Regions from separate parts of the Homo sapiens genome. Here region 1 is linked to region 2. The links come from fine-mapping of genetic effects on gene expression. A gene starts in region 2. The other region holds a variant in brackets. All regions are shown on one strand. Distances are from middle to middle. Region 1 overlaps LOC105378198 (a long non-coding RNA gene). Region 2 holds the start of WDR55 (WD repeat domain 55).

The links.
Region 1: its variant is fine-mapped to the expression of WDR55 in whole blood (TOPMed, PIP 0.98).

The regions. Positions count from the first base shown.
Region 1 is chr5:140,729,300-140,745,486 of GRCh38, forward strand. It overlaps LOC105378198 (a long non-coding RNA gene), which reads left to right. Exons shown (of 4, transcript XR_001742904.2): 2 at 2,798-2,861; 3 at 3,786-4,268. Among named protein-coding and RNA genes, the nearest start is that of ZMAT2, 37 kb to the left of the region's middle. The variant G/A (reference allele first, on the strand shown) is at 9,920.
Region 2 is chr5:140,660,317-140,673,570 of GRCh38, forward strand. It overlaps WDR55 (WD repeat domain 55), which reads left to right and starts at 4,588. Exons shown (of 7, transcript NM_017706.5): 1 at 4,588-4,787; 2 at 7,918-8,018; 3 at 8,099-8,186; 4 at 8,296-8,475; 5 at 8,575-8,674; 6 at 8,763-8,932; 7 at 9,017-12,029. The coding sequence starts at 4,597. The coding sequence ends at 9,338. It overlaps IK (IK cytokine), which reads left to right. Exons shown (of 20, transcript NM_006083.4): 16 at 442-499; 17 at 1,304-1,392; 18 at 1,583-1,691; 19 at 1,863-1,897; 20 at 1,986-2,164. The coding sequence ends at 2,013. It overlaps LOC124901088 (a long non-coding RNA gene), which reads right to left and starts at 5,121. Exons shown (of 2, transcript XR_007058968.1): 1 at 5,049-5,121; 2 at 2,095-4,841. DND1 (DND microRNA-mediated repression inhibitor 1) reads right to left here. Exons shown (of 4, transcript NM_194249.3): 1 at 13,203-13,254; 2 at 12,955-13,072; 3 at 12,129-12,590; 4 at 10,478-11,434. The coding sequence starts at 13,226. The coding sequence ends at 10,977. RefSeq lists enhancers at 3,999-4,665, 4,083-4,242, 4,593-4,722, 12,134-12,929, 12,930-13,254.

The DNA of each region.
Region 1 (16,187 bases), 70 kb after region 2:
ATATGGTAATTGTACTTTTAATTATTTAAGTGACTGCTGTACTGTTTTCCATAGCAGCTGTATCACTTTACATTCCCACCAATAGTGCAGAAATGCTTCAATTTCTCCATGTCTTCACTAACACTTATTCTCTCTCTCTCTGTGTGTGTGTGTGTGTGTGTGTGTGTGATTGATAGCAGCTATCCTGAAGGGTGTGAGGTTGTATCTCCTGTGGCAGCTCATTTGATTTTAATCTTTCTTAATCATTAGTGTATTTAAAACTGCAAGTTTACCTTTAAGTACTGCTTTAGTTGTAGTACACAAATTCTTCATGTAGTGTTTCATTCACTTCTAAGTATTTTTTAAGCAGAATCTTATTTAGTAATATGTTATTTAGTTTCCAAACACATGGGATTTTATTTTAGCTATTGTTTTTACAAATGTTAATTCCAGGATGCATTGTAATAGGAGAACATTGTCTGAATGGGATCAGATCTGTGGAATTTATAGCCTAACACATGGTCTATTGTTGTAAGTGTTATATATATATTCAAAAATAATGCCTGTTTATTTTGGGTCTACATATTTTTAAAATTGTTTTTCTTTTCAGCTCATTCATATCCATACTATTTTCAGGTCTATGTGATCTACAGTCCTTAGAGATGCATATTAAAACATTTCCAACTACAATTGGTGATTTATGTATTTTTTCCTATTTGATGTAGTTCAAGACTGTATTGTAGATGCATGTATGCTTATGATGACTGTATCAATTTTCTACTGTTCACTAATTAAACATTTTTAAACTGTGAGATATAACATACATGCAGAAAATTCATGAGGTAAATACATAGATTTAAATAAATGCTTATAAAATGAATCCATATAATCACTACTAAGGTAAGAAAACATTGCCAACATCCCAGAAACCCTCTCTCTCTTTTGATTTTTACAATCCCTTCACTTTCTTTTGGAATTAACCATTCACCTGATTGTTTATCTTATTTATTTTTATTGTATTTAGAGAAGATGGTCTTGCTATGTTGCCCAGGCTGCAGTATAGTAGCCATTCACAGGTATAATCATAGTGGCAACAGCCTTGAATTCCTGGGCTCAAGTGATCCTTTTGCTTCAACCTCTCCAGTGCTGAGACTGTAGGCATGCACCATTGTGCCCAGCCCTGTTTACCTGATTTTTATTTATTTATTAATATTTCTATTACTATTATTATTATTTTTGAGACAGAGTCTTGCTCTTTCACCCAGGCAAGAGTGCAGTGGGGGTATCTCAGCTCACTGCAAGCTCTGCCTCCTGGGCTCAAGTGATTCTCCTCTCTCAGCCTCCTGAGTAGCTAGGATTACAGGCATGTGCCACCATGCCCAGCTAATTTTTGTGTTTTTAGTAGAGACAGCGTTTCAATATTTTGGCCAGGCTTGTCTCGAACTCCTGACCTCAAGTGATCCGCCCACCTCGGCTTCCCAAAGTGCTGGAATTACAGGCGTGAGCCACTGTGCCCGCCCCCTCCATTTACCTGATTTTTATAATAATAATTTTCTCACTCTTCTTTATATCTTTACCACTTATGTATGAATGCCTGGGTGCTATAATTTAGTTTTCCTATTTTGATTACTTTCATAAATATAGTTATATTGAAGTGTTTGTTTTGTTTTGCTTCTTTTGTTCAATAATACATTTGTAAGATTTATCCATTTTGTTTATGTTGTGGGTTACTATTCCATTTAATGAATATAAGATGATTTACTTATTCATTTTAATATTGATGGATATTTGTAGCATTTCTAGTTTTGGTTCATTGTTCATAATAACTGAAACCCAGAAAAAACAGATATTCCCATCTTATACATATGTCCTGCGGCACTTCAGCATATATTTCTCCAGGGTACATACCTAGGAGTCAAACTGCTAAGTATTTAGTGGATTCATGTCTTCAGTTCTATAGTTTTGCCCAGTGGTTTTCCAAAGTATTTCTACCAGCTTACACATCTACCAGCAGTGTATCATGTCCCCAATATTTGGCATTGTACAACTTTAAAAATTTTTGTCAATTTTATGGCTGTAATTTGGTACCTCATTGTATTTTCATGAAAAAAGACAAAATCTTCATTTTAAGTATATAGAATAAATTCACATAATGTATTTTCTTTTTCTTTTTCTTTTTTTTTTTTTTTGGGACGGAGTCTTGCTCTGTCGCCCAGGCTGGAGTGCAGTGGCGCGATCTCGGCTCACTTCAAGCTCTGCCTCCCGGGTTCAAGCCATTCTCCTGCCTCAGCCTCCCCAGCAGCTGGGACTACAGGTGCACACCGCCACGCCCGGCTAATTTTTGTATTTTTAGTAGAGACGGGGTTTCACCGTGTTAGCCAGGATGGTCTTGATCTCCTGACCTCGTGATCTGCCCACCTCGGCCTCCCAAAGTGCTGGGATTAAAGGCGTGAGCCACTGTACCCGGCCCACGTAATGTATTTTCTTATTTAACCTTGAATGCTGAATAGTGTGCGTCTTTTTTTAAAAATACATCTTTAGATAAAATAGTATATTTTCAAAAAAGTACCCAAATCATAAATTTACAGCTCTATGAATTAATACAAAGTAAAGAAAACCATGAAATCACCACATGTCTATAAATAGGACTGTTCCATAAAGCCCTTCTAGAGCCTCCTGTAGTCACTTCTCTCACACTTGTCCTCAGAAGAAAGCCTTGAGGTGATTTCTAATATTACGATTGTTTTGTTTTTTCAACTTTGTATTAATGGAATAATACGTGACTGATTTTCTCATTCCTCCTTATGTTCCCATCCAGGTACTAACCAGGCCTGACCCTACTTAGCTTCCAAGATCAGAGGAGACCGGGCACGTTCAAGATGGTATGGCCAAAGACCCTCATTATGTTTCTAGATTCATCTATTTTGTTGTGCGTAGCAGTTGCTTATTTGCATTGCTGTATGGAAAGTAAGTCAAAAGACTTAATACTTTTGAAAGTAGAAATACTTTCGAAAGCAATTTGGGCTCCTCAATATAGTATAGGTTATGAGAGCTACAACAGTGCTTAGCAAGAGGTTTGGAACATAGAAAGTGTTTATTATACTTCTTTTTTTTTTTTTTTTTTTTTGAGACGGAGTTTTGCTGTTGTTGCCCAGGCTGGAGTGCAGTGGCAGGATCTCGGCTCACTGCAACCTCTGCCTCCTGGGTTCAAGTGATTCTCCTGCCTCAGCCTCCTGAGTGAGTAGCTGGGATTACAGGTGCGTGCCACCACGCTCAGCTAATTTTTTGTATTTTTAGTAGAGACGGGATTTCATCATGTTAGCCAGGCTGGTCTCGAACTCTGACCTCAGGTGATCCATCCACCTTGGCCTCCCAAAATGCAGGGATTACAGGCGTGAGCCACTGCGCTTGGTCTATACTTCTTATATTTGCAGGCAAATACCTTTTTACATTTGACAAATTGCCTTTTTATTTTTGCTTGAGTTTCCCTAAATAAAACTTCCTTGTTGTACTTATGCATGGTTCTATAATGGTGAATCAAGCCATTTACATTGGTGAATGAGAAATTGCATATTTCATGAATGCATGGAATAGTTTATGGTATTTATTCAAAATATTACACATACTTCTGCTTCCAGGAAGGTGGAGTAAATGTAATATTCCCCATTCATCCTGCTAAAACCCCAAAGCATTGTACATAAAACAAATGTAATACAATGAAAGGCAGACAAAAGGCAGACCAGCTAGGGATCTCAAGACTCAAGGTACAACACAGTCGTAAGTTTTTTTTTCCTTTTGTATTCCAGACTTGGAACTGAAGAAGCTGGCAATCTGGAAATGCCAATGGACGCAGATTTTAAAAGCCCCAGCAAAAGTCTGCTTTCTCTATTCATAGGACCAGGATCAGGAAGAGGACAGCTTAGAAAGACATAAAATTCTTAGACAATAACTGTTCTACCCCAGCCAAACACCAAACACACACACACACACACACACACACACACTCCAACAACTATGGCCCCACCCACTTCAGCAAAGGCTGAGTAGGAGCCTAAACTTCCACCACTGAGCGGCTATAAGAAGTTACCCCAAGACCCCACCAACGTGGTGTTAAAGAAGGCCAAATAGGGGACAAAATTTTTATCCATGCTGACCAGTTATGAGGTTCCCTTTTTCCCTCTGTGAAATAAAAATAAAGCCCGTAGGTCCCCAGGCAAGATGAAATGGACTCCTTGTTGCAAAAGAGACCCCAGAAAACTTTAAAAGCTGGATTCTATGGCTTTGGCAAGGTAAGAGTTCGGTCACACCTCAAAACTCCCCTACCTCATTAACTGCTTCAAGACTTTCTTTCCTACAGTTAAACGCCTGGGACTACAGTCATGTGCCACCATCCTAGGCTAATTTTTTTTTAAAGGTTTTTGTAGAGATGAGGTCTCAGTATATTGCCCAGGCTGGTCTCAAACTCTTGGGCTTAAGCAATTCTCCATCTCGGCCTCCCAGAGTGCTGGAATTACAGGCGTGAGCCACTGCACCAAGTCAGAAAACTGAGTTTTAAGAAGATTAATATTTTTATGTTTATGTAGCTTTCTGTATTACTTTTAAAGTCTTTTGATTGTCACTTCGGTTAAATGAATATTATTTTACAATGACCCGTGATCCTGTTTTGATCAAATATTTTGGGCCTTTTAACATCTTTGACAAACATCCTCAAAATCAATCCTAAATTAAGTCTTTTTACTTAGAATTAACTTTAAGATTTTCTAATTGGGCCCCTAAAAAGCTTCAACAGATATATCTCTCATTTTATAGAGATATTTTAAATGATTAGGCTTATTTGGTAAATTATATAAAAACATTGTCAAATAATAAGCAATACTAGATCTTCTTTTAATTACACTATGATATGTTGTTGATATAAATGGTTCAAAATTTATATAAATTCAGAAAGATCTAATGTGTTATCAGTCATAATTTTGGTTGTTATCTTAAAATACTACATATAATGTAAATAACTAAATGTTCTTGTCAATTGAGAACTTTCATTAGATTTTAACCATAGCCATTCTAAGTTTTTGTCATCTACAGTTACTGTTTTTAATTCTTCTCTAAAAACATTTGCAATAAGCTATAATCCAAATTGCTTTCTATCGAAAAGACTTTAACATATTTGAATACCAATTTCTCACTTGGAATAACGAAGTTCTTCCCTCCGCGGAAGACTGGACCTCAACACCAGTATCTGACACCAGACTTAGACTAGGGTTCCACCTCATGGCTGAGAAGAAGATGACAGCTGAGGTGGACTGCCTGTCCAAGATGCTGGACCAGGGCTGTATTTTAACTCGCCCACTTTTGACTTAAGACAAATTACCATTGCCATTGCCTCAAGTACCTGCGTTATTGACTGATTACCCTGACGTTGGGAATATTATGTATTCTGGAGATCCTATGTTGTGCTACAATGCTTACCCTTGTATTCCATTTTTAGATACTTCTAAAATTTCTCATCCACCTCCAAGTCCAAAATCCCTTTCCCAGAGCCTATAATCCTCACTTTAGAAAACATAGTTACCATGCTCCTTGTTAATCAAATACTCCATTACCTTAAAGAATACCCCCAGACTCTAGATAGTGACCCTCAGCAATTTGTATGGAATTTATGATTTCTCTCTTGGTTTAATTTTTTTATAACTAAAATGGACTCCTCTGTTTCACTCCTCACAATTTTAGTTTTATTGACCACTTCTGTTACCAAACCCACACCTTAACCCTTACCCTTTTGAGTAAAAGGTAATTTTACTATTCTTTTGAAAAGGTTTTTGTAGAGATTAGGTCTCAGTATATTGCCCAGGCTGGTCTCAAACTCTTGGGCTCAAGCAATTCTCCCACCTCAGCCTCCCAAAGTGCTGGAATTACAGGTATGAGCCACTGCACCAAACCAGAAAACTGAGTTTTAAAAAGATTAAGATTTTTATGTCTATGTAGCTTTCTCCTTAGATTCTGGGACTCCCACCCTTGCTACTGTACATAACCACTGAATGCCCAAAGAAAAAATATCAAACACTGACAACAGCTCCTCTTTGTTAGATATCATGCCTCTGCAGGCTTCTAGAAGGCTTGCAACAAAACCAGTTCGTGGTTCACTCACATAATAGATATCTTGTTCATAAATGAACGTATAAATTGGCATACCCTTGGAGGTATAACTTGTGCCCCTTGAGGACACACTTTCCTATATAGAATTGAGTCAGATCCCCCAGTTCAAGAAGAGGCACACAGATGCATAAACAGCTGGCAAGTTGAAGGACTTTGCCTTCTAGGTCATTACGTTGCCCTCTTTTCCATCCATCTCAATCATAAAGAAAATCTTGCTTTCCGGTAAGCTAAAAGAGAGCTACCAAGTGGATATCAGGATATGTGGTAGCATAGTTTTTGGGGTGTAATTTTTCTCAGCTACGGAGTATACACTAACAGAGATACGATAAAAAAAAATGCCGGCCACCATAGGACAAATTGCTGAAAATGCTGCAATAAGTATTATGACACAGTAGAAGTCCTTAAATTCTCTCGCTCAAGTGGTTTTAGACAATCAAATTGCACCAGGTTTTCTCATTGCTAAACAAGGGGGAATTTGCATGATAGCCCACACCACTTGTTGCACTTATATCAACATTATAGGAGATTTAACAACCCATGTAGGTAAGATCACCCAACAGGCTGCCTGGTTACAGGAGGTACAAACCACAGATCCCCTTAATAACGTTTTTAGCTGACTCATTGCAGTATTAGAAATTACTTCCAATCCATCTTACAAACCCTTGTCATTATCATATCACTATCTTGTTCCTATTTTTGATAGTCAAAGTACTTATAAGATCTATAACCAACTACTTCAAGTCTGTCACTAAAACCAAAGTTATGGTAGCACAATGCATAGAAATGACAGACAACATAAACATAAACTTACCTTCTCAACTTTTCTGTTGTTACTGTTTTTCTAGTCTCAAAGGTTCAAAGGGTCTTAATAGCTGTCTGCCTCCTTCTTGCCTGGCCTAAAATATTCAACTGGTTGTAAGTCTCCTAGCCACATGAGTCCCACTGACAGACTAGATAGACCTGGGGCAGGTATCCACACCATCCTGGGAACGACATGGGACATGTTAGAAAATTTAGCCATCAATGCTGCCTATGGCAGATTTCAGCCTAAAGCTGGAAAGTGTGAAATAAAACTAAAGTCCCTAAGCCCCTAGGTGAAACAGAATGGACTTCTTGTTGCAAAAGAGACCCCAGAAACTTTGAAAACTGCATTCTATGGCTTTGGCAAGGCAAGAGGTCAGTCACACCTCAACACTCCCCTACCTTGTTAACTGCCTCAAAACTTTCCTTCCTACAATTAAACAGAAACGAGTTCCTAAAAAACTGTCTGGAAGATTTCTCCCTCAACCTCAAGAGACCTCTTGATGTCATGGCTGACCTCCCCTCTTTTATCGTGGTTTCACCATGACTACTGACCAGCCTTATTAAACATTCCATTGTTATACTGACCACCGACCACAGACTGATTGCACCTAGTCCACAGAGGCTGTGCACAAGATGCCTTTGTGTTCTGTTTCACCTTGTTATATATAAACAGCCACGTGCCACTTCACTTTACTATTAAATCCCCACCCCAAAATGAACATGGAACATATGTAACATATATGTTTATTCTCTTTGCATGCATTAGGGTTTTCTCAAATATTCATAGATTCTCCTATAAGCTACTGAATATGTACATATAGCTCATCTTGTTGGGCATAAGTCCCAGCTTCTCCCTTTTGTCTCTGAAGCAGATGCTTTTCATTTTGGCTGGATGTTTCATTTCCCAACCTGCAGATTGTAACCATTTATAGGAAATAAAACTCTCTTTTTTCTTCTTCCTCAAATCTCATGATCTTTTGTTAATACTTCCCTTCCCAGCAGGGGGGATTATATGAGAAGACTGGACTTAGACCTCTACCCAGTGGTAATGTGGCCATCCTCACTGTGGTGTCAGGGGAGCCAGAACTTCCATGCTTACCCAGCAGTAACAATGAGCTCCCTTCTTCAGGTGGCAATGGAGGCTCTGTGGGGAACCTGGACTTCTGCCTGCACCTGGCAGTAATTAGGTGACATCTCCTTCTTTCTCTGTTCCCCCTTCTGCCTAAATGGTATCAGAGAAATCCCACTAAAACAGAAGGTTTAAATAGGATCCAGAGTAGCGGAATATAATATGAACATATCCAGGTTTTAATGAAAAGTTACTTATCATACCAGAAGATCTCAAACAGAATGAAAAAATGACAATCAACAGATGCCAACATTGTGATGACAGAGATATTAGAATTATCTGACAGAAATTTTAAATTAGCCATTGTAAAAATGCTTCAATAAGCAATTATAAACATTCTTGGAATAAATGAAAAATAGAATGCATAAGCAAAGAAATAGATGATAAAAGAAGAACTAAATGGAAATTTTAGAACTGAAAAATATAATAACTGAAATAAAAACCTCAGTGGATGGGGTGGGTGGGTTCAGCAGCATAATGGAGGAGGCAGAAAAAATAACAAGTGAACTAGAAGATAGAATAATAAAAATTATCCAACCTAAACAACAGAGAGAAATTAGACGGAAAAAAATGAATAGACTTTGATAAGTTGTGGACAGAGCAACCGCTAACATGTTATACAAAGAGATGCACTAAAAAACATAGTATTAACTCAAAATAGAATTTTAGAAAATATTAAAGTAAGATGAAGGCACGAAGAATAAAACAGAGAAGTGAAAATCCAAATGAACAGGAGGCCAGGTGCAGTGGCTCACACCTATAATCCCAGCATTTTGGGAGGCCGAGGTAGGAGGATCACTTGAGGCCAGAAGTTTGAGACCATCTTGGGTGACATAGTGAGACCTCGTCTCTACAAAAAAATAAAAATAAAAAAGCCCCAAAATGAACAATTAGTAAAATACAACATAGATTTCCTTTAGTAACAATTCTCCTCATATCCTTCCTTATTCTTCTTTTTATTCTTCTCTATGATTACCTATTAATGATGAAATACTAGATGTTTTACTTTCTATTTCTTCATAGGATTCCTCTGAATATATTTCTTTCTTTCTCTCTCTCTCTCTTTTTTTTTTTTTTTGAGACAGAGTCTCACTCTGCTGCCCAGGCTGGAGTACAGTGGTGCGATCTCAGCTCACTGCAACCTCTGTCTCCCAGGTTCAAGTGATTCTCATGCCTCAGTTTCGTGGGATTACAGGTGCACACCACCACTCCCGGCTAATTTTTGTATCAGTAGAGACAAAGTTTCACCATGTTGCCCAGGCTGGTGAACATGTTTCTTAATCGTATTCATCCTTTTTAGAATGACAGGGTGGCTTCTCAGAGGTACCATTGGGATCACCTCCAAGTTCTGCAGAATAATTAACTTTTTTTTTTCTTTTTTGAGACAAAGTCTTACTCTGTTGCCCAGGCTGGAGTGCAGTGGTGTGATCTTGGTTCACTGAAACCTCCGCCTGGAGGGTTCAAGCAATTCTCCTGCCTCAGCCTCCCTGGTAGCTGGGCTTACAGGTGTGGGCCACCACACCTGGCTAATTTTTATATTTTTAGTAGAAATGGGTTTCACCATGTTGGCCAGGCTGGTCTGGAACGCCTGACCTCAAGTGATCCACCCACCTAGGCCTCCAAAAGTGCTGGGATTACAGGCGTGAGCCACCACCCCTGGCCCAGAACAAGCAACTTTCAGCCTGATTCTTAAGCATGGGCCTTTATGATAACATTTGTCGTTATAAAATAATTTGTGAGTTGCTCCCTCACTGCCAATTTAATATTTTTAAATTTTAAAACCTATTTTATTTTTAAAAATTTTACTTCTGACCCATGAGATGTAATTAATATTTGTTTTTATAATGAAGC[G/A]TCAGGTTTGTTTTTCTTATAAATGACCTTTCATGAATATTTACTTCCATGTTCAGAAAATTTGCTATTCTTATTACCTACTAGTTTTTCTGTAAATTTGCTGGATATTATAATGTTTATAATCATATTAACTCTAAATAAGGAGAGTTTTATACTCGTATTAACTCTAAACATACAGAGTTTTAACTCTAAATAAAAAAGTTTCATATAAGAAGGTGTATCTTCTCACTCATAAGTGGGAGCTAAGCTATGAGGCTGCAAAGGCATAAGAATGATACAGTGCACTTTGGGGACTCAGGGGTGTAGGGTGGGAAGTGGGTGAGGGATAAAAGACTACAAATTGAGTTCAATGTATACTGCTCTGGTGACGGGTACACCAATATCTCACAAATCACCACTAAAGAACTTACTCACGTAACCAAATACCACCTGTTCCCCAAAATCCTACGGAATAACCTCCTTATACTTTTCCCCTTCTTTTTCTAACCATGGAGAATGCCATATGAACACCTCAGACCTTTATATTTTTCTCTTGTTGTATACACTGGTTAGGCCCTTTGGAACAATGACGACAGGATGATTAAAGTGATGATAGCAGACATCCCTGTCTTGTTCTGGATTTCAAAGGGAAAGCTTTAATCATTTCACCATTAAGTATGATGTTTGCTTTAGCTTTTTTTTTTTCCCCTGGACACCCTTACCAAGTTACAAATATTCTCTTATATGCCTAAGGATACAACTAATATCTGCTAAAAATCTTAAGATTAATTAAGATTATTTTAAAATCATGAAAGGTTGTTGAATTTTATTAAGTAATTTTTCTGCATGTACATAGATAATCATGATTTTCCCTTTAGTTCATTAACTTTGCATATATACTAATTACTTTTATAATGTTAAGTCAACCTCATATCTTGGAGAAATTCTACTTATGCTGTATTATTCTTTTTTATGTACTACTGGATTTAATTTTCTAATAATTAGTATGGGTTTTTTTTCATTTATTTACATTAATGACATTAGACTGGGCTTTTCCTTTTTTGTGTGTATTTTTTACAATAGGATTCACTATCAGGTTATTTTAGCATTAGAAAATCATTTAGGAAGTGTTCCTTCTTATTAATTAGGATAGTTTGTATATGATTGAAATGACTTAATTTTTCTTTTCTTTCTTTTTCTTTTATTGAGACAGGCTCTTGCTCTCTCACCCAGGCTGGAATGCAGTGGTGCGATCATGGCTCACTGCAGCTTCCACCTCCTGGGCTCAAGCGATCCTCCTGCCTCAACCTCTCAAGAATCTGGGACCACAGGCACATACCACACGCCCAGCTAATTTTTTATTTTTAGTCGCGATGAGGTCTCACTGTGTTGCATGGGATGATCTCGAACTCCTGGGCTCAAGCCATCCTCCTACCTCGGCCTCCCAAAGTGTTGGGATTATAGGTGTGAGCCACTGTGCCTGGCCCTAACAATTCTTTGTTAGATGAATATTCATGTTAACATTTTTATGCCTTTGCAAAATATAATTCCCAGCAGAACATGGTCATATACCATGATTGTCTCCTTTTCTTCTTTCTACTTTTCCTGAAGTTAATGCTTGACTTTTCTTCATGTGCTTAGTTTTCCTTGGACCTCTTGTTAATTTTTTGCACATTCTTCAATAACTCTTAGTACAGTTTTCTATGTGGTATATCATTTCAGGTAATCAGAGAAAGTATTAATACAAAAGAGCTATAAGATACCAGAATGTTTAGGCCCAGATCCAGAGAGGAGTAATTGTTGTGGGTTATTACCTAGTAACCAGGTAACAATGAAGCTCTGGTAGCTTTAAAGACCCAAGGCTGGCATTTGGCAGTTTGGGAGGATTTCATGGGTCTGACTCATGTACTGGCTGTGAAAGTTGATTTGAGCTAAAATGACCCCGGTTTGGTCATCTGGGAAGCACTGAGGCTGGTCCAAGACTTGTGGCAGGTAGCCACTGAGTGGGAGGAGGGAGAGTGAGCCTAGACACAGCTGGGGGAACAGTTTTTAGGGAAAGGAAGACATGGGTTTCTCTCAGTGGTGTGCATCCTCAAATGGGGGCTTCCCAAGTTTGTGTGTCCTGGTCTGGAAGTTGTGGTGGGTAGAAGGAAACTTAAAACTCAGCATCGTTCTTGAACCATTCAGGCCTAGGCTGACCCTACTGCCCAGGGTATACCAACTCATGACACTTATCTGTCAAGGAACTCCAAATTCAATCTACTTTCTGCATTATCTCAGTGATATATTTGCATGCTTCTTCCTGTCTGTGTTTTGGGGGCAGGTTTGATGTCCATGGACCCTCTTTAGTCCTCTATGTATGTCCCCACCAAGCTTATCATTTTCTTGGAGATGGGAGAGAGCCCTTTTTCAAGGAGGGGTCTAAAACGGCATGGATTCCTGAGAAGACTAGGCTGGGTCAGGAGCTGAAGAGGTTTAAGGTTGGGACAGAAACTCTGGAGGTTAGCCTTGGTAAGAGTCTTTTGAGACCTACTCCATGAGTAAATCTGCTCTTCACCAAATTTCCAGATCCCCACAGTTCCTCTGAGCAGCTTCTCACTACTGTCATCTCTCCCAGATATGAACCAAATCCCTGGTTGCCAAGACAAGTTGACAAGGTTTGAAAAAGAAACTATTTTGAAACAGAACTTCAAGGAAAAATAAGAACCCATTCTCAGGCAAATCCTAGCAGCTTTGATTAGTAAAGAAACAGCAGTCCTTGTTTGATTCAGACAGTTTATTACTTACATAGACACAAAAGGAAATAAGCAGAATTTCCAGCTCTCCCACAGGACAGCACCAATACAAAAGGGGATGGCAACCTGAGTAATGAGACACCCTGTTGCTGAGGAGCTGAGTCCATTTGCAACTAAGAAGTTTATGGCTTGCAGTTCTGCCCTAAGAAAGATGAGGCAGAATGCCTCATACCTTATCAGAACCTGGGAAGTGATAAGAACTGCCTCATGACAGCCTCCCAAGAAGATAAAAAGATGAGTTGAAAGTGGCCTTGTGGTAGTTCCTCATAAGCCTGTTCCCCAAGGATCACAGAATGTCCGCCAAGACTTTGATTAATTATGGTTAAGCCTTGCCTGTATGGCCTATGTGAGTACATATAAGGTTGGCAGGTCAACGTGGCAGAGCCATGCCCCTACACCCATATACAGAAGAGAGCAAATGAACAGATAGTTGACCAGCCTGAAAAAGCAAAACAAGGGAAAAGAGAATAATAATTGTCATAATAAGTAAAAGGATAATATGCAAGGGATTTCCCCTCTTTTTCTGAGATAGCATCTTACTCTGTTGCCCAGATCTGAGTGCAATGACACAATCACAGCTCACTGCAGCCTCAACTTCCCAGGCCCAAACCATCCTCCCACCTCAGCCTCCCGAGTAGCTGGGACTACAGGCACATGCCACCATACCTGGCTAATTTTTAAGAAGTTTTTGTACAGAGGGCATCTCACTCTGTTGCCCAGGTTAGTCTCAAACTCCTGAGCTCAAGCAATCCTCTCGCCTTGGCCTTCCAAAATGTTGGGATTGCAGGCATGAGCTGCCCCATCTGGTTAAGAGTTTTTCTTTTGCCCAGGAATTTGAGCTATGCTGAAAACAGAAAGAAGTAATTCTAAGAGTAGCTTCCACCTGATTGCCAAGAGTTAGTGGCCAAGCCAGCTTTCTGATAACCAATCACGATATCACCCCCTTACCTTTCCCCAATCCCCAGTTTGTATAAAGACGGTACTAGGGAAAGGGATAGTTGTCAGAATCCTTGATAGTGGGTTGGGGGAAGGTTGTCACAGTGTGAGACCTTTCCTTTCATCTAGGGAGCCATGTGATGAGAAAGAATTCAGTAGGCCTCTGTGGAGAATGTGAGTGCCTGCAAGAAATGAAGAATGACATTTGGTACTTGGTTGGACAATTGGACTCATACATATATACATATATAATATATATATATATAATATTTTTTAAAGTCAGGAACCAATTATAGATCATGCATTGCTTTTAGTTGTCATGACATCTCTCCAGTCTCTTTAATCTAGACCAATCTCACCTGATATTCTTTTCCTTTTTGTGACAGCCAGTTTTAAAATAATTTTAAAAAGCTGTGGTAAAATCCATAATATAAAATTTACCATCTTAACCATTTTTAAGTGTACAGTTCAGTAATGTTAGGCACATTCACATTGTTGGGCAGTCAATCTTCAGGGCTGTCTTCTTGCAAAACTGAAACTCTATGCCCATTAAACAACAACTTCCCATTTTCCATCCTCCAGCTCCTGACAACCACCATTCTGTTTTCTGTCTCTGTGAATCTGACTACTCTAGGGACCTCATATCAGTGGAATCATATAGTATTTGTCATTTTGTAGTGTGATGGGATGATCTCCGCTCACTGCGACCTCCGCCTCCCGGGTTCAAGCGATTCTCCTGCCTCAGCCTCCCTAGTAGCTGGTATTACAGGCGCACACCACCATGCCCAGCTAATTTTTGTATTTTTAGTAGAGATGGCATTTTACCATGTTAGTCAGGCTGGTCTCGAGCTCCTGACCTCATGATCCACTGGCCTCAGCCTCCCAAAGTGCTGGGATTACAAGCGTGAGCCACCGTGCCCTGCCGGTAATTCTATTTTTAATTTTCTGAGAAACTGCCTTACTGTTTTCTAAAAAGGCTGCACCATTTTACATTCCCATTAATAGTGCACAAAGGTTCCAATTTCTGCACACCCCTTCCAACACTTATTTTCCCTCTCTTTCTGGTGTGAGATGATATTTATATGGTTTTAATTTGCATTTTTCTAATGATAATTGATGTTGGGTATTTTTTTTAGGTGAAAGCAAGTTTACTAAGAAAGTAAAGGAATAAAGAATGGCTATCCCCCAGGCTGAGCAGCCCCGAAGGCTGCTGGTTGCCTATTTTTATGGCTATTTCTTGATTGTATGCTAAACAAGGGGTGGATTATTCATGAGTTTTCTGGAAAAGGGGTGGGCAATTCCCAGAACTGAGGGTTTCTCCTAGTTTTAGACCATATAGAGTAACTTCCTGATGTTACCATGGCGTTTGTAAACTGTCATGGCACTAGTGGGAGTGTCTTTTAGCATGCTAATGCATTATAATTAGTATATAATGAGCAGTGAGGATGACCAAAGGTCACGTTCTTCGCCATCTTGGTTTTGGTGGGATTTGGCTGGCTTCTTTACCACACGCTGCTTTATTAACATGGTCTTTGTGACCTGTATCTTGTGCCGACCTCCTATCTCATCCTGTGACTTAGAATGTGACTGGGAATGCAACCCAGTAGGTCTCAGCCCTATTTTACCCAGCCTCCATTCAAGATGGAGTTGCTCTGATTCAAAGGCCTCTGACAGACTTCCTCCCTCCCATTTATTTATTTACTTATTTATTTAATTTGGAGACAGAGTTTTGCTCTTTTTGCCCAGGCTGGAGTGCAATGGCATGATCTCAGCTCACTGAAACCTCTGCCTCTCAGGTTCAAGTGATTCTCCTGCCTCAGCCTCCCAAGTAGCTGAAATTACAGGTGTGTGCCACCATGTCCAGCTAATTTTGTATTTTTAGTAGAGACGGGGTTTCACCACGTTGGTCAGGCTGGTCTCGAACTCCTGACCGCAAGTGATCCACTGGCCTCAGTCTCCCAAAGTGTTGGGATTATAGGTGTGAGCCACTGCACCTGGCCCCTCCCTCCCTTTTATAAGAAAACTCTTAATCCTAAGGGTTGTAGCAGGATGAAGATCCATGTTTTGTAACTTTTTCAGGCTGAATAGGGGCAATGATATTCCTGCCTAATTATTAGGGTCTCTTGTATTCAGGGTAGAGAGTAGCTCAATCAGAAAGCATCAGTATGTCAAGCACCATTCATAACCCTGAGTACTGATAAAAGGTGACATCTGGAAGATTAATAAGTGTTTAATTTGGGAAAACATTGAGTAAGCTTGTTCTGCATTCCTATGCAAAGAGCACAACACCAATATATTCCACAAAAGTAAAGCAAAATAAGTAAAGTTATCTCAAGTAAACTAAATAAGAAGGCTTTCCATAAGCTAGGCAACTGTTGGAACTGAGCTAATATGGAGTCACTAGCTGATTTCAATACATGCCCAGAATTAGAATATTGATCCACATTTTTATATCACCTATCCTTCTTGTTTCTTCTATCAGCCAGACACCACTGGTTGGTTTACAGGAATAAGCAGTCTAAATTGCAGACAAAAAACTCAAAAACAACTGATGAGAC
Region 2 (13,254 bases):
AGACAGAGTCTCACTCTGTCACCCAGGCTGGAATGCAATGGTATAATCTCTGCTCGCTGCAATCTCCATCTCCCGGGTTCAAGCGATTCTCCTGCCTCACCCTCCCAAGTAGCTGGGATTATAGGCATGCATCACCACACCTGGCTAGTTTTTGTATTTTTAGTAGAGATGAGGTTTCACCATGTTGGTGAGGCTGGTCTTGAACTCCTGACCTCAGGTAATCTGCCCTCCTCAGCCTCCAAAAGTGCGGGGATTACAGGAGTGAGCCACTGCGCCTGGCCCAAGGCTACTTCTTACTTGGATGAACTATTTTATTAGGCTCTAAGTGGGAGGTCTAGGGGGTGGTCATTCCTATGCAGATAACCTCTTAGTCGGGTAGGTTTCCAGATGAAGCATAGGGTCAGGGTATGCAACATCTGTTTAACTCTTGCTTCTCCTTAGGATGGATGACATGGCTGTGGATAGTGATGAGGAGGTGGATTATAGCAAAATGGACCAGGTATGTAGTTAGAAGGATGGTGGGCGCCTTTGGGCAGTTATTATTTGTTTTACATGTATCTCCTTCCCCACTCCTAAAAAATCTATCTCATTTACTGGGCCCCACCCTCCTTTAGCTGCAGCAGTAGAAACAGCAGCATTGAGGGTCATGAGCAGCTTAACTATTTCAGAGTCTTTGCACAAGATCAAATGACATAGGGTCAAAAATCTATTTTTTACTTCCTATAGCAAAGTGCCAGGCTTTGATTCCCATGGTAGGCAGTAAGCAAGCATCAATGCATAAGTAGAAAGGGCAGAAAAAATTGCAGTCTTTGGAAAATAACTAAATTTTATTCTAGCCAGGATTGAAGTTTTCCTCTAAGTCTTAAGCAAAATTAAAAAGAAAAAAACCACTAATGCCACTAATAGTGAAGAAGTCTGTGTTCTTCCCCTGAGTTCACTGTATTGAAATAGCATGGTTTAATCTTGGAGCCTTGTTTAATCCTGCCTCTACTGTTTATTAGTTTTGTGAACTTGCCAAGTTCTTTCACTGTTTATGCCTCAGTTTCCTCATCAGGAAAATGGAGAGAAATATAGTTCCCTCTTCATAGATTTTATGAGAATTAAGTGAGATATGCATTTAGTGTACAGAATAATGCCTGTCACATAGTAAGTATGTAATAAGCATTTATTATTACTTATCAGGGTATGATTTATGAATTGTGGAACCTGGGATTATGGGAGAGTCTGGCTTCAATCAAGGGCTGAAATTCCATTTCCACTGACATCTCTTCCTTCCCCATCCCCCGATTCTGTCCTGCAACAGGGTAACAAGAAGGGGCCCTTAGGCCGTTGGGACTTTGATACCCAGGAAGAATACAGCGAGTATATGAACAACAAAGAAGCTTTGCCCAAGTGAGTCGGTACTGAATATGGGCAGGGTGTGAGGAGGGGTGTGGGGATTTGGTGGAATAGTGCATATAAGGTTAGAGGGTGTGGTCTGGCTGAGATGTTCCCCACTAAGTTCTTTGCCCACAGGACTCTGGGAAAACCTCGCCACTGCTATGCAATCTCTGATGCATTCTTTCCCAACTGCTTTTTTCAGGGCTGCATTCCAGTATGGTATCAAAATGTCTGAAGGGCGGAAAACCAGGCGCTTCAAGGAAACCAATGACAAAGCAGAGCTTGATCGCCAGTGGAAGAAGATTAGTGCAGTAAGTAGGATGGCCCCTTGGGTGGGAGGGTTTCAGCTGGGAGAAGACATTAGCCTGCAGATTCAGGAACAGGCAAGGGGCTGGAGAGCCATGGAAATGAGAGGTCAGCCTTGGGCCTCAGGTGAGCTTAGATGGGCAGCTTGGTGATAGACTATCCTGTTGTTTTTGCAGATCATTGAGAAGAGGAAGAAGATGGAAGCTGATGGGTGAGCGGCATTATTCTTCCTCTGTGGGACTGGTGGGAATTGCTTAGTGTATTGATCTTATACTGACCCATTTCTCCTTCCATTGCAGGGTTGAAGTCAAAAGACCAAAATACTAATCACTAGTTACAACCAGAGATGCTCCACAAGGATATGCTCCCCACTGTTTTCTTTCTACAATTTCCAAAGGTTGCAAGATGTTTTTTTGTGGATGAATATAAAATTTTATTGTGTAATTACTTGGTTCCATTAAAATTGGTTAACTTGCTATTTTCTTTGTTGAGCATGTCCCCTCCAGTGCCCTTGAAGCACCAAGAACACTAATTCCACTGGTTGTGTAAAATCACATGCAGAAAGTCATCAGTCCTTTCCTGAGCTGTGGTTCTAGATTCCTAGACAGTAAGGATGCTCTCTAGCCAGTGTGCCCAGTAGAGAAGAGAATAATGATCCTCACTGATGGGCAAGAGGTGGATAGAGGAATGTAAGTATGATTGGTCTCAAATGTCAGACTCATTCCGGCCCATCTTCAGGCCTAGTCCCTGGGGAAAGATTTCCTGGGGATTGCTGTCAGCCTGATGGGCTGCTAATCTGATCTCCAGGCTATGAAGGACTGGGCTCTGGATGAAGGCATCTAATGAAAATCACTTATGGGTGGGAACCAAAACCTTTTATGAGTTTATGTACTATGAGCTTTATTAATGTTGAGTACAAATCACTGTCTCCTTGGCTAAAGGTGTAACCTTAGGGAAGTGCTTTGGGTTTAGAGCTGATATAGTGTGGCCCTGCAGGTACAGGAATTCCTATCCTAGACCAGAAGGGTTTGGTGCCCTTCATCACCCTGAAACATTTGCCAAGGCCCAGAATAGGTCTGTTGACCTTTGAATCACACCATTCCCTTCCCTTTTCTTCCCTTCTGCTCATTACCAGCACTTTGGCCTGGTGCTCATCATTAGGTGTCACTACTGCTTCCTGGCTGGATGCCACGCTGCCACTGTCTACCCTGAGCCCAAGATTTGTGGCCTCACCAGATCCAAGAAAGCTAGAAAGTCACCTTAGCCATTACCTTGTCTTTGATTATATTCACCTTGGTAGGACAGGTTTTTGTGAGGAAGCCAGTATTGTGCATGGCATGTAAGAGGCTGAAATTGGGCCTTGCTGCAATAGCACCTAGAATGGCTAATTTCAGACAAATGACACCATGGTTCTATGGATGTAGGTAGGCAGTCCCAATTATTAAAAATGGTCACAGAGACATGGCACAGGTGAAGACATCTGGAGAGTCACTAAAAGCAAGACCTGGAGATTGTGGGTTTGAAATTCAGTTTCTGAGGCCAGGCTCGATGGCTCATGCCCACAGTCTCAGTGCTTTGGGAGGCCAAAGCAGGAGAGTCTCTTGAGGCCAGGAGTTCATGAGTCTATAGCTATGCAGGAGGATCGAACCGAAGAGTTCAAGGCTGTAGTGAGCTATGATCACACCACTGCATTCTGAGCCTGGGTGACAGAGCAAGACCTTGATTTAAAAAAAGAAATTCAGGGGCTGGGCGCCGTGGCTCACGCCTATAATCCTAGCACTTTGGGAGGCTGAGGTGGGAAGACACGTCAAGAGTTCAAGGCCAGCCTGGGCAACATACTGAGTCCTCGTTTCTACAAAATATACAAAAATTGGCCAGGTGCGGTGGCTCACGCCTGTAGTCCCAGCACTTTGGGAGGCCAAGGCGGGCGGATCACGAGGTCAGGAGTTTGAGACCAGCCTGGCCAACATGGTGAAACCCTGTTTCTACTAAAGATACAAAAAATTAGCTGGGCGTGGTGGCATGCGCCTCTAGTCCCATCTACTCGGTAGGCTGAGGCAGGAAAATCTCTTGAACCCGGGAGACGGAGGTTGCAGTGAGCCGAGATCGCACCATTGCACTCCAGCCAGGGCGAGACTCCGTCTCAATAAATAAATAAAAATTAGCCAGGCGTGGTGCCGCGTGCCTGTAGTTCCAGCTACTCGGAGGATCGCTTGAGCCGAGCGGTGATCGTGCCACTGCACTCCAGCCTGCGCGACAGCGCAAGACCCTGTCTCAAAACAAAGCAAAACAAAAAAGAAAAAAAAATTCTTGGTAACTGAGCACTGCTTGTCCAGCCCATTGAGTTTCTGTAGACAAATTGTAGGAACTGGCACAGCAAACTGGCCACAAAGACGTTAGGGGCGTGGACACCAGCTGCTTGAGCTGCCTGCTGTCCCAGACTCCCGTATGTCATCGCGCAGCGTGGGATTTTGCGGCTTCCTGACAGCCCAGGCTGTCGCTTGACTTGATCTTGGGTTTCACCAAGCCACGAAGGACTAGCGTCCCTCTCTCCTATCCCAAGGGCATTAAGCCTGTCTGGATGAAGTAGGAGAGGAAAGATTTACACGCAGTTCTCAACTTTACGTGACGTGACTAGGGAGGGAATTGACGGTCGCACCGTCTACCTAGCCCAAACGGGGTCACAGCAGGACAAGGAAGTAGCCGATCTCCCAGATGCGGTCTCTTCGCTCCGCTCCACCCGCACCAGCAGCGGCCCACCCACCTCTCCTGTAAGAGGAAGAACGTCCCGGAGACACTTCCGGCCCCGCCCCCCGAGGCGGAAGCGGAGTGCCAGGCTACTCCTCCCGCAGTGTGGGTGGTTCCGAGGCTGACTACCCTGCGGCGGCGCGGCTCGCAGTCCTTCTCAGCATGGACCGCACTTGTGAGGAGAGGCCCGCTGAGGATGGGAGCGACGAGGAGGACCCAGACTCCATGGAAGCCCCAACCCGGATCCGGGACACTCCGGAAGACATCGTGCTGGAAGCTCCGGCTAGTGGGCTGGCGTTCCATCCGGCCCGTGACCTACTGGCTGCAGGGGACGTGGACGGGGACGTGTTCGTGTGAGAGCGGGGCAGGGCCGGGGCGCCGGGTCTGGAAGCTTCCCGGGGGTGGACCTGGGAACAGGAGAGATGAGAGAAAGTTGCAGGGAGACAAATTTTGCAAGATTCTTTGGGTCCAATTTATTCAGTAACATTCGGCTCTTCTATCACACCAATCTGTTGAAAGAACTGGAATGTCGTGACAGAGCCCAGATACCGTAGTAGGCCAAAAAGCCCTTTAAGGCCTTGTTATTTCCCACCGATTATTATTTATTTACTTACCTATTTATTTTTGAGACGGAGTCTCGCTCTGTCGCCGAGGCTGGAGTGCAGTGGCGCGATCTGGGCTCACTGCAACCTCCCCCTTCCGGGTTCAAGCAGTTCTCTTCCTCAGCCTCCCGAGTAGCTGGGATTATAAGCGCCCGCCACCACGCCCGGCTAATTTTTTTTGTATTTGTAGTAGAGACGGGGTTTCACCATCTTGGCCAGGCTGGTCTTGAACTCCTGACCTCGTGATCCACCTGCCTTCCTCCCAGAGTGCTGGGATTACAGGCGTAAACCACCGTGCCCGGACTCCTACCGGATTATTATATTGTGCCCGAGACAGGCTCAGCAGGCCCCTTTAAGTGATTTTTCAAACCACAAATCTTGGCTCACGCCTGTAATACCCGCACTTTGGGAGGCCGAGGTGGGCGGGTCACCTGAGGTTGGAGCTCGAGACCAGCCTGTTCAACATGGTGAAACCCCGTCTCTACTAAAAATACAAAAATTAGCCCGGTGTGGTGGCGCGGGCCTGTAATCCCAGCTACACGGGAGGCTGAGGCAGAAGAATCACTTGGATTCGGGCGGTGGAGGTTGCAGTGAGCCAAGATCGTGCCACTGCACTCCAGCTTGGACAATAGAGTGAGACACTCCCTTGATTAAAACCCTTCAATGGTCTGCTTTTAGGATTTAGTACAAATTTCTCAATCCTGCCTTCAACGCCCTGACCATCTGTGCTCATTCATCCATACCTTTTAAAAATACGTCTTGGGCCGGGCGTGGTGGCTCATGCCTGTAATCCCAGCACTTTGGGAGACCAAGGTGGGGTATCACCTGAGGTCAGGAGTTGGAGACCAGCCTGGCCAACATGGTGAAATCCTGTCTCTACTAAAAATAGAAAAATTAGCTGGGTGTGGTGGCGGGCACCTGTAATCCCAGCTTCTCGGGAGGCTGAGGCAGGAGAATCGCTTGAACCTGGGAGGTGGAGGTGGCAGTGAGCCGAGATCGTGCCATTGCACTCCAGCCTGGGCAACAAGAGCAAAACTCCATCTCAAAAAAAAATCTCGAAACCTCAGCCCATTTGCATGTGCTATTCTGTCCGGAAAACTCCTTTCCCCTCACTTTTACCTACTATCTCTGAGTTTCCAGGATCTCTTCCCTCTTCCTCTCTCCCCAGACTAAAATTGGTTACCTGTTAGATGCTGCCATGGCACCAGGTGCCATGGTACCTTTCCCTTAATAATGAATGGTTGGTAACCATATGTCCATTTGTGTAATTATTTGAATGCTGTCTCCTTCACTAATGTTTTTCAAACGTCTTTGACCTTGCCTCACAGAGAAATACCTTTTACATTATATATGATGCTCTGTGATACAATTGCTGATTTTATTCTATTATTGTGTACATGTACACAAAATGCTGATCGTAGCTTACTAGTCCGTTATATGACTAGAATGTGAAAAAACACTGTTCTGGAGTGTAATCTGTCATCGGTTTTGTTCTCTATTTTATCTCCAACCTCTAGTCTAGGGTAGATGCTCAACACATGTTTGATTTTGAACAAAAGATACAGGTTAGAGGCAGTGGAAAAGTTGAAGATGTTATGCTTATCAGATTTACTTAATGAATTTAAACCTCAACCCCTCATTAGCTGTAATGGCCTTGAGCGTGTTAACTTCTGTATTTTCATCTTTGAAAGGGGGAATTATACCTACCCTTGCAGAGGGGACAAGTTTGCAGTACAGCACCTAAGCAGCTCTTCAACAAATGTAGGTTCCCTTCTACTACTATCCATATTTATGGTGCCAGGCACTTGGGAGTTGCCCTAGACATCCACCTTTCTTCACATTCCACACAACTTTGTTGCTTCCCTTGTCTTAAAAAAGGTTCTGGAGGAAAATTCTTGGTTCTCCCCTTCCCCACCCTCAGCCATGACTATTGTGAAAAGGTTCCTTTTCCGAGGATTAAATTCAAACTTCTGCTTGGCTCATGTGGTCTCATGCCCACCCCAGCCCATCTTTCTAGATTCAGTCATGCTACTCTCCTGCTACAAGGAACCCTCCTCATTCCTTATCTCTGCTGCCTCCAGTATCTGGCCCTTGCTCTCTGCCAGGCAAATTCTACTCTTGTATGATCCAACCCACATGTCACCACCTTAGCTTTCCAGGGCTCTCTTCTCCCTTCCCAAGTATTCATTCAATTTGTGAATGTTTATTAAGCTACTTTTTCACGTTCAGCACTGGGATAGAGAAAATGAGCAGGCTCAGTTCTGCCTACCTGGAACTCACTGGCAATTAAGCATGTATTCATTCTGCCCTTTTTGAGGATCTGCTCTGAGGCAGGCACTTGGGGGTATTCCATAAACAGTACTCACCTCAAAGTTGTTTACAGGCTGGTGCCTCTCCCCCACCTCCATTTTGATCTTGCCTCTTTTTCAGCACGTACTCTCAATGTACTGTAATTAATTGTGGCTTTCTCTAGCTCCTGCAGACCTGAAGTGCAAGAGCCTGCTCTACCTTACTGATTTTTAGATTTCTAACTTCTGGGGCTGGTCTTTTGTCATTGATGTAACAAATATCTCCTCCACAGTGGTCCAGACCCAATCTTTGTCCAGGCTGGGGCTTTCAAAGATGATAAAGAGGGGTTGGGTGGGATCACAAAGAAATCTTGCGCAAATATACCTTGAACTAACATATATTGAAAAAAGCAGGACCTAACATTTCAAACTCACTGAAAATGGAGAAATGAGATGGTAAACTTTTTGGGCTTAGAGGTGTAGAAGCAGGAACTCTTAGGTAGGTGGGAAGGCTGCTCTGTCTAGTTGGTCTCTGCACTCAATGCAACCCAGGCTGGGTCTGGAGTCATTTACCCTCCTTGCCCTCTCCCCAGCTTTTCCTACTCTTGCCAAGAGGGAGAAACCAAGGAGCTCTGGTCATCAGGTCACCATCTCAAGGCCTGCCGAGCTGTGGCCTTCTCTGAAGATGGGCAGAGTGAGTACTGGGGAAGACAACCAGCAATGTGGTGGAAGGGAGCAGTGAGCAGCACCATGACCTGGGCACCTTTTCCCCAGAGCTCATTACTGTCTCCAAGGACAAAGCCATCCATGTTCTAGATGTGGAGCAGGGCCAACTGGAAAGACGTGTTTCCAAGGCTCATGGGTAAGGAGAGCAGCCAATTCTGTGTATGTGCATGGAGGTGAAGGGTAAGGACCAGGAGGTCCCCACTGGGACAGAGATGCTCCAAGAAGTTCTACATCTGTGTCTCTAGTGCCCCCATCAATAGTCTTCTGCTGGTGGATGAGAATGTTCTGGCCACTGGGGATGACACAGGTGGTATCTGTCTCTGGGACCAGCGGAAGGAGGGCCCCTTAATGGATATGAGGCAACATGAAGAGTACATCGCAGACATGGCTCTGGATCCAGCCAAAAAGCTGCTGCTGACAGCCAGGTACAACTTCAAAGCTGCCTTGCCTCCCCTCCCCTCCCTGTGTGAAATGTCTTCCTCAAATAGACCTTGCGTCTAAGCCTACTGCTCTACTCTCTACAGCGGGGATGGCTGCCTTGGCATCTTCAACATTAAGAGGCGTCGGTTTGAGCTGCTCTCAGAACCTCAGTCTGGGGACCTGACCTCTGTCACTCTCATGAAAGTACAGCTGGTTATGGTGGGATGGAGGGGTGTGTGCTGGGGGCTTAGTCTGAGGCAGCTTCCACATTGTTTTCTCTATTTCCCTGCAGTGGGGGAAGAAGGTAGCCTGTGGCTCCAGTGAAGGTACCATCTACCTCTTCAATTGGAATGGCTTTGGGGCCACAAGTGACCGCTTTGCCCTGAGAGCTGAATCTATCGACTGCATGGTTCCAGTCACCGAGAGTCTGCTGTGTACTGGCTCCACTGATGGAGTCATCAGGTGAGGGAAGCCTGGACAGCCCTTAGGTCACAGGAAGGGCAGACCCAGCTAGCCAGTACTCAACACTGTTCTTTCCCTGCCCAGGGCTGTGAACATCCTACCGAACCGAGTGGTGGGCAGTGTGGGCCAGCACACTGGGGAGCCTGTGGAGGAGCTGGCCCTCTCCCACTGTGGCCGCTTCCTGGCCAGTAGTGGCCATGACCAGCGCCTCAAGTTTTGGGACATGGCCCAGCTGCGAGCTGTGGTGGTGGATGACTACCGTCGGCGCAAAAAAAAGGGAGGACCACTGCGGGCTCTGAGCAGCAAGACTTGGAGCACCGATGACTTCTTCGCAGGACTGAGGGAAGAGGGAGAAGACTCCATGGCTCAGGAAGAAAAGGAGGAGACTGGGGATGACAGTGACTGAAGGAATGAATTGAATCTTGAGACGGGTCCTCACCAGGCAAGAGTCTTGCTTATTGGGCTGCATCCCCAGAGAGGATATGAATTATTTTTTGAAAAGACAGGGTTTTGCCATCGTCCAGGCTGGAGTGCGCTGGCTTGATCTTGGCTCACTGCAGCCTCAATGTCCCCAGGCTCAGATTGTCCTTCCACCTTAGCCTCTGGAGCAGCTGGGACTACAGGTGTGCACTACCACACCAGGCCAATTTTTGTTTTTTTTTTTTGGTAGAAACGGGTCTGTTTTGCCCAGGCTGGTCTTCAACTCCTGGACTCAAATGATCCACCTGCCTCTGCTTCCCAAAGTGCTGGGATTACAGGCACGAGCCACCACACCTGGCCAAAAAAATTTATATTTTTTGAGACAAGGTCTCACTCTGTCACCCAGGCTGGAGTACAGTGGGTTGATCATGGCTCACTGCATCCTTGACTTCCTGGGCTCAAGTGATCCACCTCAGCCTGCCTGGTAGCTGAGACTTAACAGGCATCTGCCACCATGCTTGACTAATTTTTGTGATTTTTTTTTGGTAGAGACCAGGGGTTTCACTATGTTGACCAAGCTGGTCTTGGAACTCCTGGGCTCAAGTGATCCTCCTGCCTTGGCCTCCCAAAATGCTGGGATTACAGGCATGAGCCACTGTGCCTGGCTGGATATGAAATTTTTTTTTTTTTTTTTTTTGAGACAGGGTTTCGCTCTTGTTGCCAGGGCTGGAGTGCAATGGCGTGATCTTGGCTCACTGCAACCTCCGCCTCCCGGGTTCAAGCAATTCTCCTGCCTCAGCCTCCCAAGTAGCTGGGATTACAGGTGTCTGCCACCATGCCAGGCTAATTTTTGTATTTTCAGTAGAGACGGGGTTTCTCCATGCTGGCCAGGCTGGTCTCGAACTCCTGACCTCAGGTGATCCACCCGCCTCAGCCTCCCAAAGTGCTGGGATTACAGGCAAAAGCCAACACACCCGGCCTGGATATGAATTTATAATACCCTACAGTGCAACACAAGAAGATGCACTCAAAGCACTGATGTGAGGAAGTACTTGCCCCGTAGCAGCTATTCACTCTACCAGTGTAAACAAACTCTAAGCTAGGGCAAGACAGCACAGACACAAGTATATACTAACCAGGGGTTTAATATAAATACAACCAGCATAGAAAGACCCAAAACTATACAGAAACCAAAACCAGAATGCCATGTGGTGGAGGCAAAGGGCAGAATTTCTGACCCCTTTGGCTCAGCTGCCCTTCCCCACAAATAAAAACCAACAAAGAGGACAAATCAGGACAATAAAGAAGATTCATGCTAAGCTGTGGCAGAGGGGGGAAGGTATGATCGGGTGGGGGTGGGACAAGGAACGGCCATGGAAGATCACTGGGTCAGGTTGGACCCTGGGCTGGGAGCGGGAGGGCAAGGCCCCTCACCACAACTTAACCCAAACCTAAGCTGCCCCCAGGTGCCATAGGTCCCTGTCCCAGCAGGGAGGCTGATGGGCCTGGGCCCATGCCCCTCCCCACCTTTGGGGGTCAGAAAGTGGCCACCCAGGCCTGCTGGGATGGGGCCTGACACAGGCTCTGCATGCCCATTCAGGGTGCCTGTGGAGAAAGAATGGAGTCACTGTTTAACCATGGTACCTGCCTCAGCCCCAGCAGACCACAGGAGGTTGGCCCCAGACTCACTGAGTGCCTGCAGCAGCCGTACAGACACAGCATCCTTGGCCACCTCATGCCCATCCCGGCCATCTAGGGTCAGCACAACCCAGATGAGGCCGCTGAAGGGCACCGGATGCCCAGGAATCACCACCTGGTACCAGAAGCGGTGCCAGCCAGCAGGTCCTATGCCCAAACACTTGGTGAGGAACACAGGGCTGCCCAGCTTCATTCGTTGGCACAGCAACTGCAGGGTAGCCCGAGCCCCTTGGAACCCTAACTTGTCCCTTGCCAAAGCCAACTGGCTGCCCTCTGGCTGTGGGGACCGCAAGAAGGGACCCACAAGCTGCTGGCGAAGTCGCTGCTTCAGGTCTGGCTTGAGCCACTCCACAGCCACCTGCTCTCCACAGAGGTGTGACTGCCCTGTAGGAAAAATGCAAAGACAAGGGCAGGTCTAAACCCTGGGCCCAAGCCTCCAGGTGGTGAGCCCTTTGGAGCTACACAGTCCTGTTATTTGTAGCCTTCCCATTTCCTGGTAGTGTGACCATGGGTAAGAAAAGACAATGAAGCCTTCAGCCTCCATTATTTGCAAAGGGAGTATAACACACTGCTACCTTACAAGTTTCCTTGGAGAAGTACTGGTTAATTGCAGGCTTTGTCTGCCTCATAACCATCATAATGGCTAATCTTTACTGGGAAAACTTGCTGTAAGTCAGTCAGTGTGCTAAGTACCGTACACCCATTATGTTACTTAATTCTCATAACAGTCTGAGGAAACAGATTCTATAGTAGTAAAAAGCTCAGTTGGATTCCCTTGAGCAAATCAATTTCTCTAACAGTTTCCTCATAGCTTGAGGGTCCTGTGCCTATTTTGCGGTGTGGGGGTGGGGGAAGGTTGAGAATTAAGTCAGGAGGTAATGCTCGGGAAGTGTCACAAATTTAGGTAAGCGGTGGTGGTAGCACCATTGGAAGTTTTAAAAATCTGAGATCAAATAGTAAAAGGTTGCAAATTCTGGCATGTTTGACTCTAAGATCTTGTAACTTTAACAGCTATGCTCAGTATAAAGTGCCGGGCAGAACGCGTTTGGCCCCAACCAGCACCCCCGCCCCAGCCTACCTTCCACCAGGGCCTTTTTGGCCATGGCAGCGGCCCGGTGCGAGCTGAATTTGAGCAGAGCGATCTGCCCGGGCGCCGGTCCGGGGCTGGGCAGCAGCCGCGCCTCCTGCAAGCCGGGACCCAGCGGCTGCAGCGCGAGCAGCAGCGCGCTGCGGGTCAGATTCGGCGGCAGGCCGTCAACGCTCAGCTCACACTTCTCGGTGCTGCGGCACACGAGCAGCGGGCAGGACGGCCGCAGCGGATGGTTGTGCAGCGTGGCGATGGCGGCCTGCGCGCCGCGCCTCGAGCTGTAGCGGGCATAGGCGAAGCCGCGGTTCAGGCCGCTGAAGGTCATCATCAGGCGGAACTCGTAGAGGCGGCCCACGCGCTGGAACAGCGGGATAAGCTGGTGCTCGTACACGTCCTGAGGCAGCCGCCCGATGAACACCTCTGACCCAGCTGGCGGCGGGCTGCCCACCCAGCCTGTGGGAAGAGGGTATGCAAGGCCACCGTCAGGCGACGCTTTCGAATTCTGAGCCCACGGACCCAGCGCGCGGGGGTGGGAGGCGATGTGAACAAAGGTCTGTGAAATGGGTTTACACCCGTACCCTGGGTGGTTGGCATAATTAGGTGACTGCGCTAACAAGGGGGCTGGCACAGAGTAGGTACACCTTGAGATTGGCCCCCTCCCTCGACGGGGCGGGTGGACGTGGAGCCACAGTTCCTCCTTTGCTGGGGGGTATAAATCCGGGTAGTTCGCAGTTTCTGACAGTGAAGGCTCGGAGCAGCCCCTCCCCCAAAGGGGGCTGGTGTAGCCGGACAGGCGGAGGGGCTGGGACTACCGTACCTGGGGGTGGCCCGCCATACTTCCTCTGCCCGTTCACCTGCACCAGGCGGATGCCTGTCTCCCTGACCCACGCCTCCAGCGCCGCCTTGTTCTCTGGATTCACCCTCTCACACCACAGCTGAGAGGGAAAGGAAGGTTGGAATGGCGGATCGCCAAGCGCGCCCCCACCTCTCCTGTGGTACTGGGGTCCCTAAAGCCGACCCCCGCTCCGGCGGGGCTCGCCGGCCCCCAAGTCGCCAGCCGCTTACCTCACAATCCCGCTTGGACTGCATGGCTCTCCAGCTGGCCCCCTCGTACCCT